Linked DNA regions of Homo sapiens: all the other regions are reported to be linked to region 1. Evidence: microRNA targets listed by miRTarBase, many of them from high-throughput screens and not tested one by one. Region 1 holds a microRNA gene; each other region holds the end of a gene's coding sequence.
Evidence for each region. The annotated mature microRNA hsa-miR-125a-5p reads UCCCUGAGACCCUUUAACCUGUGA and lies in region 1 at 1,565-1,588, opposite strand. An mRNA with a match to its seed (bases 2 to 7 or 8) in the 3' UTR can be bound and repressed. Matches are read on the target gene's strand: a 7mer-m8 pairs with bases 2 to 8, a 7mer-A1 pairs with bases 2 to 7 and ends in A, and an 8mer does both.

Region 1 (3,130 bases):
TAAGAGTGTGAGCCATGCAGCCATGGCAGAACCTATGCCTACCCGACCCCATCTGGACTTCCAGCTCTAGGCAATTTCTGCAGCGTCCCTTCCCCCTCACCACCTTCAGCCCCTGGCTCTTAGAGCTGCCTTCAGCCTTCGTTTGGACAAGTAGCTGAGCTCAATGTCTTCCCAGCTTTCCCCTCCCGGATCACTGCCCAACTCTGGGGGCCTCCTTCCTCTGCCCTGGGCCCTCCCACATACCCATTTCTTAGGGGCTCCAAGTCCACATCTCCCATCTCCCCATCCCCACACACTCACCCTGGGCAGCAGCCAGCTCCTGCAGGGCATGGGTCATCTGGGTGAAGGTGTCATGCAGGTGGCTTCTCTCATCATAGTCTGGCGGTGAGGGAGGGAGCAGGGGCTGGGGGAGGCAGCTCCCCGCAACACCATGTCCCTAATGCGAACATTCTGTTTCTGAGTCTCTGCCCTCCCAAGTCTGTATCCTCCCCTCTCTGACTCTTTGCCCCACAGTCGCTATGCTTCCTGAGTCCCTCCCAAGTCTCTATCCTCCCTGAGTCTCTGCCCCCGACCAGTCGCTATCCTGCTTCCCCTAGTCTCTGCCTCATCTCTGTCCTCCTCTCTCTGGGTTTCCATCCTCTTTGAGTCTCCATCTTCCACCCTCTGAGTCTCCATCCTCCCCTCTCTGGGTCTCTATTCCCTCTCCAGTCTCCAACCTCTCCTGACTCTCCATCCTCCCCTTTCTATGAGTCTCCATCCTCCTGACTCTCCATCCTCCCGAGTGTCCATCCTCCCCTCTCTGACTCTCCATACTCCTGAGTCTCCATCTTTCCGAGTCTCCATCTTCCTCTCTCTCTGAGTCTCCATCCTCCCCCTCTCTGAGTCTCCATCTTCCCCTCTCTGACTCTCCATCCTCCCCTCTCTGAGTCTTTGCCCTGCTGTCTTCCCCTGTCTGTGTCTCTCTGTCCCTAAGTCTCTGTTGTTCTCATGGTCTTTGAGCCTTTCTCCTCTGACTGTTTCTCTCTGTCTGTCCCTCAGCCTGACCCTCTGGGCCTCTCCTGCCCTCCCTCTGCACCTTCCCCAGGACACTGATGAAGTGTGGATGGTCTCCTCACTGATTTCGGTGTCAGAGAGGCCCTGGAAGGCGGCCGTGAAGGCCTCCTCACACTCTTCAAGCTTGGGGCTCCGCATCCCAACAAACATCTGGCAGATGCGGAGGCGCTCAGAGTAGGTTGTGAAGCAGAGGAGACAGGCCCAGGCGGGCACCCTGAAGACAGCCAGGGCCAGCAGGGCAGACGGGACGGCACTGGCCAGAGCCAGCAGGGCCATCGTGTGGGTCTCAAGGCCAGGGGAGAAGCTAGTAACCTTTATGAAGTCACCACAGGGCGGGGGAAGGGCCAGTGGTCTGGGGTCAGAGGTCAGGTTTCAGTTGGTGGTCAAATGTCATGCTCTGGAGGAAGGGTATGAGGAGTCAGGGGTCAGAAGTCAGGCCAGCAATTCCCCAGGTGTGTGGTTGGGCCAGACGCCAGGCTCCCAAGAACCTCACCTGTGACCCTGGATGTCCTCACAGGTTAAAGGGTCTCAGGGACCTAGAGACTGGCAACATGGTGTGCGGTGGCCCGGTAGACCCTGGGGTGGGGGTCAGAGATGGAGATAGGCACAGAGACATTCTGAGAGCCAGAGACAGAAAGACCAAAAACGACAGAAATAGAGACACAGAGAGATATCGGGAGGGGCAGAGACCTAGAAAGCCAGAATAAGAGGGAGTCAGAGGATCCACTGTGAAAGAGACACAGAAGCCACAGAGACACAGCAGAGATGGAGACAGACAGGGAAGGAAAACAGATTTCAGGGGAAGGAGGGGATGCAGGGACAAGGACAGAAAAGAGCCCGGCTCTTCCTCCCAGGGTCCCTGGGGCAGCCCAGTGGGGCTAAGGGTCCCTGAGTGGGGCTGGGGGTCCCCGCCGGGCCCCGTCCCGTGCAGGGCGCAGCCTGGGGAAAGCTAGGAGGCCGTATAGTGATCTCCTTGGGTGTCCTCCTCAACTATACAACCTCCTACCTCAGCCCGGGGGGCGCGGCAGGTGGACAGACCCGACAGACAGACAGACAGGGACCAGGAGGACCAGGGATGAGGGGGAGGGCCGGGGAGGCCCCAGCCGCGATGGTGAGCCCCCGACACGGACCCACAGACACGAGCTTGTGTGCGGCGAAGGCCCCGCAAGGTCGGTTCTACGGGTGGGTGCCAGGACCCAGGAGTCCGGGCCCCCGGCCCCTCCTCCCCAAGGAACCCAGGAGTCCAGGCCCTCAGCCCCTTCCTCATCAGGGACCCTGGAGTCAAGGCTCTCATCCCCCTCCTCCCTAAAGAACCCAGAAGTCTAGGCCCTTCCTCACCACAGACCCAGGAATCCAGGCCTCTGGCCCTTTTCTCCCCAAATGTTCCTGGAATCCAAGGACTCAGCCCCTTCCTCCCTCAGACTCATGAGTCCAGATCCAAAGCCTCCTTCTCCCCAGAGACCCAGGAGTCCCTGCCCCCAGCCCCTCCTCCCTCCGGCCAGGCAGGCCTCCTGGGGAAGGCATGGCCTGATAGAAAACCTGGCTTCCTGGGTGCCGGCTGGGAGGGAACCTCATTTGTCTCGTAATTTGGCCCTTTGGGCACACCTGCTTCCTACCTACCCTCCTGTCAGTCTGCAGAGACTCCAGGCCCAGGGCTAAGGAGGCCAGGGGCTAGCCAACCATCAGAGCCTCCCTAGGTGCTTTCTTTCCTCTCTCCTCCCTTCTTTGGGTCATTTACAACTATGACAGCCACAATCTCCCAGCGCTGACCCCATACCAGGCCCTGAGCACCAGTCCTCTCCCTGACACCTCCCACTCCAGAGAGCGAGGTGCCCTCAGCATCCCCATTTGGCAGGTGAGGGGGCTGAGCCTCAGAGAGGGGAAGAGGCTCCCAAAGTCTGCCCAGCCCCATCTCTGTCCTCCCTCTTGAATCCAGGAGGTGTCCCCAGCCTTCTCCAGCTTCTGGACCCCGGGACCCAGCACCCACCCTCCCCACCCCTGGGCTCTGAGCCCCTCCAGCTGGGGTCTCTCCCGTGCCCAGCCCCTCCTCCTGGACTGTCTGGTTCTCGCTGCCCCT
Region 2 (3,000 bases), not on the chromosome of region 1:
GTGGGGTTTGATCCCGAGAACAGTGGAGATCACTGGAGGGGTGTGGCATGATGCAGTTTTCAGTCTCAGACATGTACCTGCTTGGTTGGAGGAGGCCTGGAGGGGTCAAAGTTAGAACCAGAGCCTCCTGTGAGGAGGCTCCCACAGTTGTCTGAGACAGTGGTGGCCTGGACCTTGGGCAGTGACAGAGAAGGGAGAGAAGTGGGCATATTTGTAGTATCTGAGGGAAATATACATCTAAGACAATTGGGAACATGGGGTAGAGGCAGGGTGGGCGTAGGAAATCTGGGCATCATCTGTGCACAATAGATGAGGGAGGGGAGAGTGATTAAGACAGGACAGAAGCCTGACATCCAGGGCGGGGTGGGAGGTCAGGGAGAGGACTCTGGGCTCCATCCCAGGAGCTGAGAGAAGGGTGGAAAGGTGAGCCCCCCAATCACTTTCTGGCCCCCAGTTGATCCCTACCCTGCTCTATTCCAGGACATAGACATCAACACAGATGATGAGCTGGACGCCTACATTGAGGACCTCATCACCAAGGGGGACTGAAGGCAGGAGAGAGAGCAGCTCCCCTGCCCACCTGCCCCTCAACCCTGTAGCTGCAGGGGGAGGGGACTTCATTCATGGGTTGGTGGTCGCACCTTGGTTTGACTTACACGGGACATTTGTGTTTTTGGAGGAAAAGATACCCTGATTCTTTGAATCTTCCTTAAGTTTATAAATATTTATTTTTTAAAAGAAGATGCTGTGCCTGTGAGACCATACTTTTTTTTTTTTTTTTTTTTTTTTTTTTTTTTTTTTGGTGACTGCAAAGGACAGAGAACCTTTCCACTTTGGCCATACTGGGTTGCTAAGCCGGAGCCATTTCAGCTCCTGGCTCCTCAAGATAACGGCGAGTCCAGTGCCATCTTGGAGAAGCTCCAGGGGCAGGGCTGACTTTTCTCCTACAGGAGGAACAATGTGGGGATCTGAGGGATGGGAGGGAGACTTCCCCCTAGAGTGGTGGTCCTGCTGGGGGCTCATATCCAGGGACCCAAAAGGGGGGCTGTGTAGGAGGTTCCACATTGGAGGGGCTCTCTCTCTCGCAGCTGTCAGAGTTGGTCCTGGCTGTGGCGTCCAAACAGCTTGAGGGAAAAAGATCCTGTCTAACCACCTCATCTACTACTCAAGTTCTTTCTGAAGGAGGGATTTCTTCAGTTAACCATGGACAGTGAGGTTTCTCACCACAGTAACTTGAGTCCAGGTTGAGGGGGAGACAGATCTGTGGTAAATCTCTGACTTGGGCAGCACACTGAGTGTGGAACCCCACAGGACTCCTTAGGGAAGGAGCTTGTGTGTGAAAGAACCCCTGGGGCTGAGCTGGTGACCTCCATGTGTGGGTGCAGCAGGGCCTTGGATGGTGCCAATTGATCTGGACAGCCTGTTGATGCTTTTCTACTTCCACCCTTCGGCCTGGCCCCACTGAGCCCCATCAAGGTGCCTGAAGAGGGGGCCAGTGAGATCCCGTGGCCACAGGGACTCCAGAGGCATCTCTGCAGGAAGCACACCATGCCTTCCCTCCATGTTCCATCACGGCGCCACAATCTGTGTCCCTTAACTTCTCAGGGTCAAAGACAAAGGCAAGCGTTGCTGAATTTTCTCTTTAATGGCCATTGGAAGAGTCTGGTTCAGTTTTTCCCAACTCTCTTCCCACTCGTATTTGGGGCCTCTGGGTTTTCTGAAGGCACAAGGACTGTGACTTTGTACCACTAACCTGTGGTTCAAACCTGGGTGTGTTTCTGGCATCTCCCTAACCCAGATCAGCAATGGCCACCCTGCTCCTCTGAGGTCAGCAGAAGACTGGGAAGCAGAGGTGAGGGATGCAGGCCACACTGGAATGGGAAGTCTTTTCCCCACTGGATGTGCCTGTCTGGTGGGTTTTGGACCTTCCCAGACTACATCTCTAGGAGAGGCCTGTTTGGAGTAGTACACTGAGAGACCCTGGCCTCTTCTGCTGGAAGACTGTCCAAGTCTTGGGGTTTCTTGAGCTGGTGATTCCTCTGCCATCCTGCTCTCTCTCTTCATCTCAGGCAGCATGGGGTCCACTTTTGTCCCCAAACCTAATGTTTTAATCCAAATGCAAATTGGTTCCACATTTTTACTGGAGGGTAATCAGTTTTTAAAATTCACACACATGTAATCGAAACGCAATACTATAAAGTTCTACTGGTGAGACTCCTGAACTCAGTCTGTTTTCTTAGTAAAATCCAGCACCTTCCTTCTCTTCATTCTTTGTATCACTGTGGCTTTAAACTGTCTTCAAGTTATTCCTCCTCATCACCTCCATTGTTTTATCTTCACCCCCTTAACATCCACAGAAACAGACTGGAGTTCTTGAATGTTTTAGCTTCAACTTCTACATGTGCCCACTTTGCTTTGTTAATGCTACCACAGCTGTGCTGAATGAAGCCTGTTTCCCAGGCAGAGATCCTGCCACTCTGGATGGGAAGATAAAATGCAGGGGTCCTCTTTCCTGGTTTCCTGGGAACATCAAGGGACAGGTGACCAGCTTGGAACTCTTTGATGACTTGGAAGGAGGAAGATGGTCTGGCTGATCTGTGGTGAGAAGGTCCTTTGCACAAGGCTGCAAGAAAGTGAAGGGCAGCAATGCTGGTGTTTAAAGAACGAGAGGGGTGGGGACTCTAGGGTGTTTTGTTTGAGATGGGGGTCTCGCCCTGGTCACCTAGGCTGGAGTGCAGTGGCACGATCTTGGCTCACTGATACATCTGCCTTCCAGGCTCAAGTGATCTCCCACCTTAGCCTCCCAGGTAGCTGGAACCACAGGCACACACCATCATGCCTGGCGAATTTTTTTTGTATTTTTGGTAGAGTTTCGTCATGTTGCTTAGGATGGTCTCAAACTCCTGAGCTCAAGTGATCCACCTGCCTCGGCCTCCCAGAGTGCTGGGATTACAGTGTGAGCCACCATGCCTCACCTAGGGTGTTTGGTTTTTAAGTGAA
Region 3 (3,130 bases), not on the chromosome of region 1:
CTCTGCCAGATACCACACACCAGCAGAGGTGACAAGGTCTCTGCCACTGCTGCCCCCAGTGCCACACAACACTGTGCAGAGGAACCCTTGCCAAAGTCAGACGACAGACTCTTCACACAGCTTCTCTCCCACACTGCGGTGCCGGTCTGATCAGAGATCCCAAGCGCACAACCCTACTCAACCTGCAAGACAGGCTGGGAAAGCAAGTTTCTAGTCTCTTGCGGGGAGGAGGGAAACAAGGAAGTTCCCCACACAGAAAAAGGCGTTTCAGGCTGGGCTCGGTGGCTCACACCTGTAATCCCAGCACTTGGGGAGGCTGAGGCGGATCACGGGTCAGGAGATCAAGACCATCCTGGCTAACACGGAGAAACCCCGTCTCTATTAAAAATACAAAAAATTAGCCGGGCGTGGTGGCGGGCGCCTGTAGTCCCAGCTACTTGGGAGGCTGAGGCAGAAGAATGGCGTGAACCCAGAAGGCGGAGGTTGCAGTGAGCCCAGATCATGCCACTGCACTCCAGCCTGGGCGACAGAGCAAGACTCCGTCTCAAAAAAAAAAGAAAAAAAAAGAAAAAGGGGTTTCAAAAACTCACAGATGGGCCACCAAGAATGACAAACGTCTATTACACGGAAACTTGCCAGTTACATTGTAGCTTACATAATTTTTAATTTTTATTGAAATTTAAAATTTTTATATTAGCTTAAATGTTAATATTGAAAATTAATTTCAAATTTCTCAAGTACTAACTTGCAGGAGATTTAGAAATTATTCGACTATCAGAAATTCATTATAAATAAAGCACTAACTGATTAACACAGTTATTTTAAAAATAAAAGACTGGGGAGAAAGGCACACACCAAGCTGTCCTCATGCGAACGGAAATCAAGTAGTATGAGTTGGTTGCAACTCTCTGGTTGCTGACCATGAGAATGTTAGGAAAAGCCACCCATTTAGGTGCAAACAATGTTTTACAAAGCATAACAACAATAAATGCATGCATGAAAGGTGGGTTGGAACCATTAGTTTCTAAAATTAAACAAGCACACTCCGGTACTTGTAAGCACAAACATGGTTTCCACTTGAGGAATGGTATGCCTAATTCCATAGATAACTGAAGTTCCAGGGCTGCTTTTGATTCTGTCTTCCACAATGTTCAATTATGTAATTTACCTCACATTCCTTAACCCCAACTTACTTTACAGAACAGGTGCACTTTTATCATAAAACTCAATTTTATTCAATAAAATAATACCACAAAAGATAAAATGTTATTCTTTTATTTATGTTAAATAAAAACATGAGAAAATCCTTTTTTAAAAAGGGTCAGAATATTCCTTATGTCTCCAAACCAAGTCCATGGATGCAAAGAAATGCTGAGTTCTTGATACACTTTCATGTCATAATAACCAAAGGAGACAGCACGGGCTCGAGTCTTTCAGCTGCCGCTTAGGAAAGTCACATGCAGTATTTGGGAAAGCAAGGAACAGAACACAGGCATGAGTATTTTCTGGAAATACCTCCTGCCCTGGCAATGAACCTCAGTACCAAATATTTTTGTTTTCTTTTTTGTGGTCCTGATAAATTTTTAAGCCACACATCCTACTGAACTTCAATGATACAATTTCTCACAATTCCAGAATTCTATTGGCAGTACAGTTTACTTGGCCAACGTGGATAATCTTATAAATTTTAAAATTACATACAATAGAACACTATTGCAAATTTTGCCAGTAGAAACATGACCCCAAGGAACTGCCATTTCCAAAACATAACTGGGCACACATTTACAATGCACCTGCTAGGTTTTGAATTCATTTGTCATTTCTGATCTACCCTTAAGACTATGCTTGAATCTCTGAAAACAAATGCTAGATTCATGATTTCTATACCCACATACTCCATAAATCCATCACAAACCCTACAGTCTGATTTAGCCTACGGCAAATGATTCATCCAATAGGCCATGGTATGTTCACAATTCTTCAATCTTATTCAGGTTGTAAAGACGTTTTTCTACGACTGGAGTCACTAAGAATTTCTCTGTTAGAGAAAGCATCATTTTCACCTTTGGCACACTGCCAAGATGATACTTTACTACAGAATTTATGAAACTACAATTTAGTAACTTGCAGGCTTTATTAAAAGAAAAAGAAAAACAAAGAATAATTTAATATAACCCCATGTCCCAAAACTTTCTAGTTTTTTTTTTTTTTTTTTTTTTAGTGCAAGAAATGCTGCATCATTGAAGCACTTGAGAATTACCATGAAATCTAACAAAAAATGTCATCAACTCAGGAGTAATAATAAAAAAGAGAAACAACCAGAGAGGCACACAGATTGTTGTTTTTTTAAAAGGATTTTTATACTATATTAAAAAACCACAAAATAAAAAAGGGATCAATCAACATATATCTTAGAAGTCCTTCCAAGAGTCTTGGTATGCAACAGCCATGGAGGCTGTGACCTTTTTCCTTCTTTTCTCAGCCTGCAGTTCATTTAAGGATCACCGGAGATGACTCGTGCTCTAGTTCTTAAAATCAAACTTGTTCTGCCAAATCCAAGACCCTGAATTTGTCCAAATTGTAGAAACATGCTTTTACCACCCGTCCACCAAAATACCTCCCATTCAAGTCAACAACCGCTGAAAGGCAAACAAAAGACAGTTAATACAGGTATCCTATAAGATAAAGGTTTAACTTTAATTAAACAGTAACTTTACTTGTAAAGATTAAGGCTGTAAATTCAACTTTTTTATTCTTTAATATTTAGCTGTACCACTAACCTTTAATTGCTGATTCAACTCTCTCAAATTCTAAAAATATCCGTACTGCTTCATCATCAGGGGCACCAGGAATCTGGAAGAAAATGAGAGCGTGATGAGTAAAGGCATTTGAGATTGCATTGAATGAGTTTTCTCTTTTAAATGATTTCTCAGAGTGGATATTCTAATTATCATCATATACAGTCAAGTAGTTGTCAAATACCAAGGAAATAAGTATAATTTGTTCATCATCAAAAACGTACTGAATGCCTGTTTTTATGACAGGCATTGTTAGGTGCCAGGAACACAGGGCTAGGCAGTCTCTGACCTCATAAAGGCCCTGTGCCAGCTGATGACGTAAACAAATAATT
Region 4 (3,130 bases), not on the chromosome of region 1:
TCAGATTAAATCAAATGCAGTCTTTTTTGCTTTGTCACCAGGCTGGAGTGCAGTGGCATGATCTCGGCTCACTGCAACCTCTACCTCCCAGGCTCAAGTGATTCTCCTGCCTCATCCTCCCCAGTAGCTGGGATTACAGGCGCCCACGACCACACCAAGCTAATTTTTGTATTTTTAGTAGAGACAGGGTTTCACTATGTTGGCCAGGCTGGTCTCGAACTCCTGACCTCAAGTGATCCACCCGCCTCGGCCTCCCAAAGTGCTGGGATTACAGGTGTGAGCCACCACGCCCGACCTACCAGAGCCATTTTTCTAATAGCATGCATTTACTTTGTGTATCTGTGTCACAGTCTGGTGAGTCTCTCAATATTTCAAACTTTTTCATTATTATTACATCTGTTTTTGTGATCTGCAATTAGTGATCTTATAATTGTAGATGTGGTGGAATTGGCAAGAAAACAAGAAGTAGAAGTAGAGTTTGATGATGTGATTGAATTGCTGCAATCTCTTAACAAAAGCTGAATGGATGAGGTGTTGCTTCTTATGGATGAGCAAAGAGTGGTTTCTTAAGAGGGAATCTCGGCCGGACATGGTGGTTCACGCCTGTAATCCCAGCACTTTGTGAGGCTGAGGTAGGCAGATCACCTGAGGTCGGGAGTTTCAGACCAGCCTGACCAACATGCAGAAACTCCGTCTCCACTAAAAATTCAAAATTAGCCAGGTGTGGTGGCGCATGCCTGTAATCCCAGCTACTCAGGAGGCTGAGGCAGGAGAATCACTTGAACCTGGGAAGCGGAGGTTGCAGTGAGCCAAGATCACACCACTGTACTCCAACCTGGGCAACAAGAGTGAAACTCCACCTCAGAAAAAATAAATAAATAAATAAATAAAATAAGAGAGAATCTCCTCCTAGTGAAGATGCTAAGAACATTGTTGAAATGGTAACAAAAAATTTAGATATTCCATTATCTTAGTTGATAAAGCTGTGGCAGGGTTTAAGAGGATTGACTTCAATTTTGAAAGAGGTTCTACTCAGGAAAAAATGCTATCAAAAGCATTGCATGCTACACAGAAATCTTTCATGAAAAGAAGAGTCAATCAATGTGGCAAACTTCACTGTGGTCTTATTTTAAGAAGTTGTCACAGCCACCCCAACCTTCTGTAACTACCGCCCCAATCAGTCAGTAGCTATTGAAATTAGGCAAGACCCTCCATCAGCAAAAACATTACAAATTGTTGAAGGCTCAGATATTATTAGCATTTTTTAGCAATAAAGTATTTTTTTACTTAAAGTATATACATTTTTTAGACATAATGCTATTGCACATTAAATAGACTATAGTATAGTGTAAACATAATTTTTATATGCCCTGGGAAACAAAAAAAAATTTGTCTGGCTCAATATACTCCAATATTTGCTTTGTGTGGTAGTCTGAAACTGAACCCACAATATTTCCAAGGTATACCTGTATGTATACATATCATCATTGTATTAATCATGGCAATTAGGACAAATCCCTACATTTAGTGGGAACTCAAATAACTATGCTAATGAATGAAAGTACAAGAACATAATAAAAGTTGGAAATTATCTCCATTCCTCACATAAAAATAATATGAAGAATTAGAAAGGAAATAAACCAAATGAGCATTCCAAATTTATTCCTTTTAAGTAAACCTATAGCCACTACATATGTCCCTGACAATTAGAACAGAAAACAAAAAAAGGACAAATAGAAATACTTTCCATTCTGTCTATATAGTAGTAGTTTTGGGGGTATAGATAGTAAACACTAGTCAAGAATACTCGTCTAAATATGTTGGTAAAATGTAGTCATCATTTGGCATGTGTTTTGCTTTGGTATATAATGAAGTTGAGCTATCCCATCTTTCTTCTCTATGGAATATAGTCACACAAACAAAAAAGATGAATCTCACTAGAGGTGGGTCTTTATCAGAAATATGCCCCAATCTAGTTAGGTAATAGAAAGAAAATCATTTTCTCCTCCTAGGCCTAAGATTCTTCATGTAAAAATTATAAGACTGAATAAAGATCACTTCTAAGTTTCTATAATTCATGTAGATATATCAATTTATACATCATGATGTAGACAGACAGCAAGGCTATACTTTCTGGCTCCATGATGCTAGGCTTGGCCACATGACTTGCTTAAAGCACGTATGATACATGCATCTTTTAAGAGAAAACCGAAGTGTATTTCATCTCTTTCTCTCTCTGCTAAAACAATCACAATGTCCCAAAAGAGATCCCTTCCTTTGCCTTTGATCATGGTAAGAAGATGACACAAAGCAGTGTCACAGCCAATCAACAGCTGACATCCCCCACCAGGAAATACATCTTTGTTGTTGTCACTACAGCATAAACTAATGAAAGCTAATTAAATATAAGAATTTGCTAATAATTGAGGATCCGTACACAATTAAACTTAAAACCAAAAAACTCTAATAGAAAACTCATAATTTAAAATGTGACATAAGGGGAAATAAGTTAAAAAGCAACTTTTAAAAATTACAAAAATAGTATTTGTAGTAAAATAAATGGACTTAAACATGTAATAGAATTTTCCCTGTGATTTCTGACTTGAATCTTTGAATGACTATTCCAAGTAAGATTCAACATTTTTACAGAATTGTTCTTCATCATTAAGATATTCCAAGATTATATTTCCACCATTATATAAAGGACAATCCTCCTTAGCAATCCAGGTTTCCAAAGTATGATCCAAGGGTAAGGCTTCTCCTGAAGTAATGTGACACAGCCTTAATTTCTGTGAAGGGAGAAGTAAGTCATACTGTAATAAATAAACATGCTTGAATGGAGCATCATAAAACCTTTATTAATATAGAAATATTATTATAATGAGATGTTACCTTAGCTGTAAATTTGTTATTGTCATTTTTAAGCCTGGCTAGAGAAGCGGCAAAGTCTATGGCCTTTCCAATGCTCCATCGGTGGCAAAAGAACATTGGTTTGCTCTTCTCTTTGCTCCCTTTAGGTAAGAAAACCTGAAAGTAAATTCTTTCTGTCTGTAAAAAGAAAAAGTTAAAACAACCATTACATAGACAAAATAGACATCAGTTTTTGTCTGGTGCCAACCGTTCCTCTCTT
Region 5 (3,087 bases), not on the chromosome of region 1:
CCTGGTGCCCACCCTGGTGAGCAGACTGGCCTCCCAGCACCTCGTGGCCATCCTGGACCCACCCCGTGCTGGCTTGCGTGAGTGGCTTTTGCTTAAGGAGGTGGCACGGGAACGAGGACACATGGGGTGGCTCACCATGTTATGCACTCTCTGGCTGTGGGGACCCAGCTGGTGTTTGCCTCCTCAGATTCCAAGGTGATCCTGGCCATCCGGAGAGCTAAGAACCTCAGGCGGCTGCTGTACGTCTCATGCAACCCCCGGGCAGCCATGGGCAACTTTGTGGAGTGAGTGTCTGCAGGGGCCTGGGTGGGGGCTAGGCCTGCTACCAAGCCCCCAGCTCCCACAGGAGCCCCTGATTAGCCTATCGGCTGACCTTAGCGCCCCCCTTTTCCCCCCACAGCCTCTGCAGAGCCCCATCTAACCGGGTGAAGGGCATTCCCTTCCGGCCGGTCAAGGCTGTGGCAGTGGACCTGTTCCCGCAGACCCCGCACTGTGAGATGCTCATCCTGTTTGAGAGGGTGGAGCACCCCAATGGCACAGGGGTCTTGGGGCCCCACAGCCCTCCAGCTCAACCCACACCAGGACCCCCAGATAACACCCTACAAGAAACTGGGACCTTCCCCTCATCCTAGGCCCAGGACCCATTATGGGGACAGGAGCTGAAGGGCTCCCAGGGCCCCAGGGGCGGGGAAGGCATGGCTTGCTGGCCAGGATATTCAGAGGTAGGCAGCCAAAGGGCACAGAACCCTGTGCCCCACCAGGATTGGCCTGCTGCTAGGGGCCAGGGGCCCTGACCAGGAAGACAGGTGGGTTCCTGTAGCCTGTTGCCCATCCCCAGGGCCTTTGTGGACTAGCCAAGGCTGTGAGGGCCAGAATAAACAACTGCTCAACAAAGGGTGTTTCTGTGATGAGAGCCAGGGGTCTGAACACAGGGCCTGGGTGCCAGGGAAAGGGCCAAACTAGGCCTAGGCAGCTCTGCAAGCCTCTCTGCATGGCTGGGGGAGTCAGGGCAGAGCTTACTTTAAAAAAGAATGTTCGATTTGATACTTAAACTTGAGGAGAGGCAGAGAGAGGTCTGGGAACTGCACCAGCTGGGGGCATGGGGTGGAGAACACTGGGCAGAGTTGGCCCCTCTGTGGCCAGCCTGGCCCTCAGCCCAGCAGAGAGGGCATCAACCAAGGAAGGGGCCATGCTGGGGTGCTGCTCAGCTGTTACAAAGGCAGGGTCCAGCCTGCAGGGAGGCCCCAGGAGGGGATCTGGCCAGTCAAGGGTCCACAGGGTGCCAGCCTCTCACCCTCAGAATAAAGACATCAGCCATTCCCTTCTGGACAGTTTGCTTTATGTGTTCAGACAATCAAGGCTCGCCTTCCAGGCACAGCCCAGTGCCCTGGATGGCATCAGCACAGGCTCCCCTGCCCCGGCCTTGAAGCATGGCTGTGTGCACGATTCATACCCATGCTTGGCAGACGGGTGGGGGGGGGGGGGGGGCGCACAGAGACCACAAGAGTATGGCAGCACCTGCTGTGGTGGTGCCTGGGAACAGCAAGACACAGCGAGGCTCCCCAACCTTTAGGGGAACACATGTGCACGAAGCTTTGGTTCACAGGCGCATCTGGCTGGCTAAGGGCAACAGTCACAGTCAAATGACTATTCACAGCTGCAGACAGGAGGCAAGACAGAAGCAAGTGTCTAATTATAGCAATTTGAGTTGAGGGTTTCTTTTTTAAAGGTCAACAGAAGCCAACCTTGGTCACACAGGTAGTGAGGGAAGGATATGTTGTGGGCGGCCCACAGGCCAACATTGTTTTCCTGACAGAAAAAAAAAAAAAAGCGCCATCAGTACCGCCTGTAGGGGGCATGGTGGGGGACAGACACGGCAGAACGCTGGACTCTTGCTTCAGATGGCGCACCACAAGCACACGGCACTCTGCACAGGTGCCAGTCCACCACCAGGGCCAGCCTTTGAGCACACCCTGGTGCCTCAGACTCCGGCAGGAACACATTTCCATCGCACACCCACCCATAGGGGCCACCAGTCGAGAAGCAAGCTGGGCACCAGGCAGCTGCCTTTGACATCCAGAGAAACCGCTGTCACAGGCAACAGCTCTGGATCAAGAATGGGCTACACTGAAGGCCCTTGCTTCCTGTTTCAACAAGTCCACTTGCTAAAATGCATGATTCCAAATCTACCTTCTACTCTCACTGTGAAAGTCTTTCAAAATGCTAAAATATCACAAAAGCTTTAAAAATCAATGGGTGGACATATGGACTCGACTGCAAAAAATCTTTGTAAAAAACTGTTGCCGGAGGCCAGGAAAGGCAGAGAGGGCCTCAGTGTCCAAAGAGGCGCTTTTAGGGAATTAAGACTTCATCAGAAAAAGGGACCCTAGGAGGCCAGGGTAACTCCAGGAGGTGGCAGGACGTCATCCTTGCTGGCATCGTGTCCAGACTGGAGAGGGACCACCTTGATGGTTTGCCTCCAATCCCAGAAAGCTAGTTCTGATGCTAAAATTCTGTTTAAGCCAAAAAGGTTTAAAATATTCCTTTCTCTTCTACCTTTTCAAAGAAGGGGAAACACAGAGGGTGGGTGAGGGCAGGGCACCATGTGCACCTCCTGACCAGGTCCCTGTAGCAGCCCTGCAGGCGCCCTGGGCACATGGGCCACCTGGCATCACGGGCCAGCCACAGGACTCAGCCATCCCCTCTCATCTGTCATCCAAGCATCATGTGTCGTCAGTGCGTATTACATACTAAAATTCATGAAAGCCTTCATAAAAAGAGCCTGCAGCAGGTGCACAGAAGCAGGGTCCACCACTGTCCACAGTCACCAGCTGCCACTGGTGCAGTCGCTGAGTCCATCCATTCAGGCCTGGAGCTTTCCAGGGAGAGCCGCTGCTCCACATGTGTGCTGTGTGGCCATGGCTGTCCCTGTACACTAAAGCCTCCACCCTAAGGCCGGGCCCACAGGTTGGCCACAGGGAAGGAGCGTGGGTTGGAGGCCTGACACTGTGGTGCACGATGCATGACTGCTGGTCTCCTCAGAAGTGCGGCTGGCGGCCCCCGCGCCCTGGCCCGTGCCACCTCCCT
Region 6 (3,130 bases), not on the chromosome of region 1:
CTGAGGTGTTAACTAGCTTGCTTATGAGCACCCAGTGCAAGCAGGAGAGTCAGAGTGTGACTGCAGAGTCCCAGAGTTCACCCATGTGACTGTTTTGCTGCCTTGCCTGTTTCTAACCTGTAGCTTGCTGCTTGACCTAGTTTGCATGAAGAGTCTTAGCCTTGGGTTTTACCTTAGAGCCTCACAAATGTTAGCTGCTATTGTTGTCATTAAGCTTTGATGAGTTTTCTGCCTTGAACCTCCTCCTTTTACCAGGATTAAAAATATATCAACGACACATGCCCTGCCCTGCCAGCTACTTCCATTTTATATACAAGAAAGAGAAAACTCAGAGATGTTGGATGACCTCCTCAACGTCATAGGATCTTAGATCTAGAGAAGACCTTAAACATTTTCTCCAGTTTGTTGCCTTTTAGCCTATTTAGTTTAGTTTGCTTTTAGCAATGAAGTCTCCCTTTCAAACAAAGTCCCATGGGAGGTCCAAGTTGTAAAGAAGAGAAAAACAGAGGGCTCTGTTGGGAACAGGGTTCAAGGGATGAATCCTGGCCCATTTATCCTCCCCTCTGCAGGGTTTCCCATTTCCAGAGACCTTAGAGGGAAGGGTCCAAGGAGCTCTGTTTGGAAAATCCCCATCCAAATCAACATTCCCCTCAAACAAATGAGGAACAGTCCCCACAAAGGGAGGTGACTTGGCCAAAATCAGACAGCAAGTGCATGACCTCACTGGGGCCTGCCTCTTGGACTCCAGAGACCAAGCCCAGAATCTAACAGAAACAACCTGGGCAGGTGAAAGGACCACACTCCTCACTCTCCTGACTGTTTACTGAGGTGTGTTTGATAAGTGGTCACTCATGGTCTTGCACTCCCACCTATGGGGACAAATTCAATACTCCATTCACTAATCTCATAATTTCCCAGATGCTCCTTTCTTTACACCCTGGTTGTTGGGGGGCAAGTCTTTTTATTTTCTAGGTATTGTGAAATAAAATATACATACAGAAAACCGCCTAACTGCATCCATGCCAAGAAATAGAATGTTGTCTGGACCCTAAAATCCCCCAGGTGCTCCTGCCTGCCACTCTCTCTCGCAGGGGCCAAGTGTCACTGGGCCTTCAGACAGAGCATGGCCTTGCTTCTCTCTGCACCACCTGTTTCCACAGCCCTCCACACAACAGCCCCATGTTGCCCGTTTTGAACTTTGTAGAAATGGAATCACACTCTATGCATGCTTTTGTGATTCTTGTACCCACATGATGTTTGTAAGATTATCTGTCTTGTGAGGTGCAGCTGGCTGTAATTCATTCATTTTCTTTGCCAAGGAGCACTGTGTTGTGTGCAGATACATGATGTACTAATTCATTCTGTGATGGGTGCTTGGGTTGTTTCCAGCAGAGGCTGTTGTGGACAGTGCTGCCCCATATCTTTTTTGCAGAGAGATTTGCTCTCATGTTATCCAGGGAGAGTGAGGCTGAAGGAAGAAAAGAACTCTCAGAGAAGAGGCCAGGCGCCAGCCTCTGGGGTAAGAAAGACACATTGGTCTTTCAGTTTCCTCAGCACTCTATACCCAAAGCCTGTCAAGGCCAAGGACATAGTCAACAATATAGGCATTTTCAAGATTTTATTGTAAAACAGAGCTGAAGTCACAGGAAGTAGGGAACTTTGCACCCAACATATACAGCATTCATTCGCTGAGTACCTGCCAAGAGCGAGGCTAGGTGCTTGGCCCTGCAGGGACCTGAGACATATACGAGTCATGTTTCCTGCTCTGCAGAGCTCCCAGCCCGGTGGGGGAGACAGGCAGAGGCACAGCCATCTTTCATACAAGTCTCCAAGTGCCAGAAGCTCTACAATGTCAAGGAGCAATTTATTCCTTCAGCAGAGGAAGAAAGAACCCCCAGGAGCCACATTTGCTCAGAGCCTTGGGAGCTGAGAAACTTCTGATAGGAGGTAAAGTACTGCAGGCAGCTGTAAAAAATCTGGAGTGGAGATGGAGCTTGGAGGCTGGGCAGCAGTGCCTGGACAGAGGAGTCCAGATTATGGAAGTGTTTTAAAAGGAAAAAAAAAATTATGGGGCTAACATAGTACCATAACTTTTAATTTTTACAAGTTGGGACATCACAAAAAAAGAAGAAAAAGAAGGGAAAAGCTACCACTTACTTTCACCATCATTTCACAAATGCAGGAATATTTTAAGTCCTCAGCCTCTCCCCGAAAGAACATAATCTCCAAATGAAGGGCTCTCCTTCACGGGGACTGAAAAAAAAAAATCATGAAATCCTAATTTTCATTTTCCACAAACCCTTAAAAACCTCCCTCATGGACTGGTCTTTTCTTTTTTGTAAAACAGGGTGTGGGAGCCACTTGGTTGGGGGTCATCAAGTGGCCTGATGGATCCAGGGCATGGGAAGGTGGAATGAGGGAGGAAGAGGCAGTGGCAAGAGGAGAGCAGGTTGGGCAGGTGGTCGGGGTTTGATCCTGAATGCAGAGGCGACATGGAAGGGCTTTGTGCAGGGGCTGCTGTGCTCTGATTCACACATTAGAAAGACCATTCTGGAGGCAGCATGGAGGCTGGTCAGTTGAAGAGGAGGCAGAGTCCTGTGACCAGGTTGTTGTGACGCCTTCTGAGGGTCCACCCCTCAATGGCTGGTCCTCAGTGCCCCCATAGCCGGGAGCCCTGGGGCAGGGGGACTGGCAGTCCCTGCAGTCCTTGCCATGCAAGAATGGGAACAGGCAGGCCTGGGCAGTACTACTCGTCCTCCTGGAAGTAGAATTTGGTGACCATGACGCCTTCGTCAGGCATATTGGTGAGGCTGACGGGCTGGTCAGCTTCCATCGCTGTGCAGAGGAACCAACCGGGGCAGGCGGCAGACTCAAAACTGGTGGTGGGGCCACTGTCTGAGCGGATGAAGGCGAAGCGCTTGTCCTGCTTTCTGTTCTCGCTCAGGTCAGTGATGTTAACTGCCTGGAAATCAAAAGATGGGCAGGTGAGAGCTGAGGCCTAGGAAGTCCTGTGCTGCCTCCCTCTCCACTCCACGCCATGAAATGGCCCTCTGGACAGCCCAGAGTTAGTACAGGGGAAATGCCATACCCTAAAAGCCCCCAGGTGCTCCTGTCTGCCATTCTGTGGGAC

Region 2: the mRNA of MORC2 is a reported target of hsa-miR-125a-5p. Seed matches in the 3' UTR shown: 7mer-m8 at 1,601-1,607.
Region 3: the mRNA of RBM17 is a reported target of hsa-miR-125a-5p. The part of its 3' UTR that is shown has no 7-base or 8-base seed match.
Region 4: miRTarBase lists ZFAND1 as a target of hsa-miR-125a-5p. Seed matches in the 3' UTR shown: 7mer-A1 at 1,697-1,703.
Region 5: the mRNA of TRMT2A is a reported target of hsa-miR-125a-5p. The part of its 3' UTR that is shown has no 7-base or 8-base seed match.
Region 6: miRTarBase lists IL1RN as a target of hsa-miR-125a-5p. The part of its 3' UTR that is shown has no 7-base or 8-base seed match.

What each region holds. Positions count from the first base shown.
Region 1 is chr19:51,691,726-51,694,855 of GRCh38, reverse strand. MIR125A (microRNA 125a) reads right to left here and starts at 1,602; the gene lies at 1,517-1,602. SPACA6 (sperm acrosome associated 6) reads right to left here and starts at 1,526. Exons shown (of 9, transcript NM_001316972.2): 1 at 1,116-1,526; 2 at 301-378. The coding sequence starts at 1,329. It overlaps SPACA6-AS1 (SPACA6 antisense RNA 1), which reads left to right and starts at 1,400. Exons shown (of 2, transcript NR_108100.1): 1 at 1,400-2,222. MIR99B (microRNA 99b) reads right to left here and starts at 2,244; the gene lies at 2,175-2,244. It also overlaps MIRLET7E.
Region 2 is chr22:30,924,352-30,927,351 of GRCh38, reverse strand. It overlaps MORC2 (MORC family CW-type zinc finger 2), which reads left to right. Exons shown (of 26, transcript NM_001303256.3): 26 at 481-2,222. The coding sequence ends at 549. It overlaps MORC2-AS1 (MORC2 antisense RNA 1), which reads right to left. Exons shown (of 2, transcript NR_026920.1): 2 at 698-2,623. Among named protein-coding and RNA genes, the nearest start is that of MORC2-AS1, 3.5 kb to the right of the region's middle.
Region 3 is chr10:6,114,962-6,118,091 of GRCh38, reverse strand. RBM17 (RNA binding motif protein 17) reads right to left here. Exons shown (of 12, transcript NM_032905.5): 11 at 2,781-2,853; 12 at 645-2,639. The coding sequence ends at 2,536. Among named protein-coding and RNA genes, the nearest start is that of RBM17, 27 kb to the right of the region's middle. RefSeq lists a silencer at 2,000-2,200.
Region 4 is chr8:81,700,077-81,703,206 of GRCh38, forward strand. It overlaps ZFAND1 (zinc finger AN1-type containing 1), which reads right to left. Exons shown (of 8, transcript NM_024699.3): 7 at 2,893-3,048; 8 at 1,261-2,789. The coding sequence ends at 2,619. Among named protein-coding and RNA genes, the nearest start is that of SLC10A5, 6.6 kb to the left of the region's middle.
Region 5 is chr22:20,110,108-20,113,194 of GRCh38, reverse strand. It overlaps TRMT2A (tRNA methyltransferase 2A), which reads left to right. Exons shown (of 12, transcript NM_022727.6): 10 at 1-77; 11 at 188-284; 12 at 401-1,320. The coding sequence ends at 632. It overlaps DGCR8 (DGCR8 microprocessor complex subunit), which reads right to left. Exons shown (of 14, transcript NM_022720.7): 14 at 1,323-3,087. The coding sequence ends at 3,087. Among named protein-coding and RNA genes, the nearest start is that of MIR6816, 3.1 kb to the left of the region's middle. RefSeq lists an enhancer at 718-1,217.
Region 6 is chr2:113,132,488-113,135,617 of GRCh38, reverse strand. IL1RN (interleukin 1 receptor antagonist) reads right to left here. Exons shown (of 4, transcript NM_173842.3): 4 at 1,604-2,962. The coding sequence ends at 2,747. Among named protein-coding and RNA genes, the nearest start is that of IL1RN, 6.5 kb to the right of the region's middle. RefSeq lists a silencer at 2-151.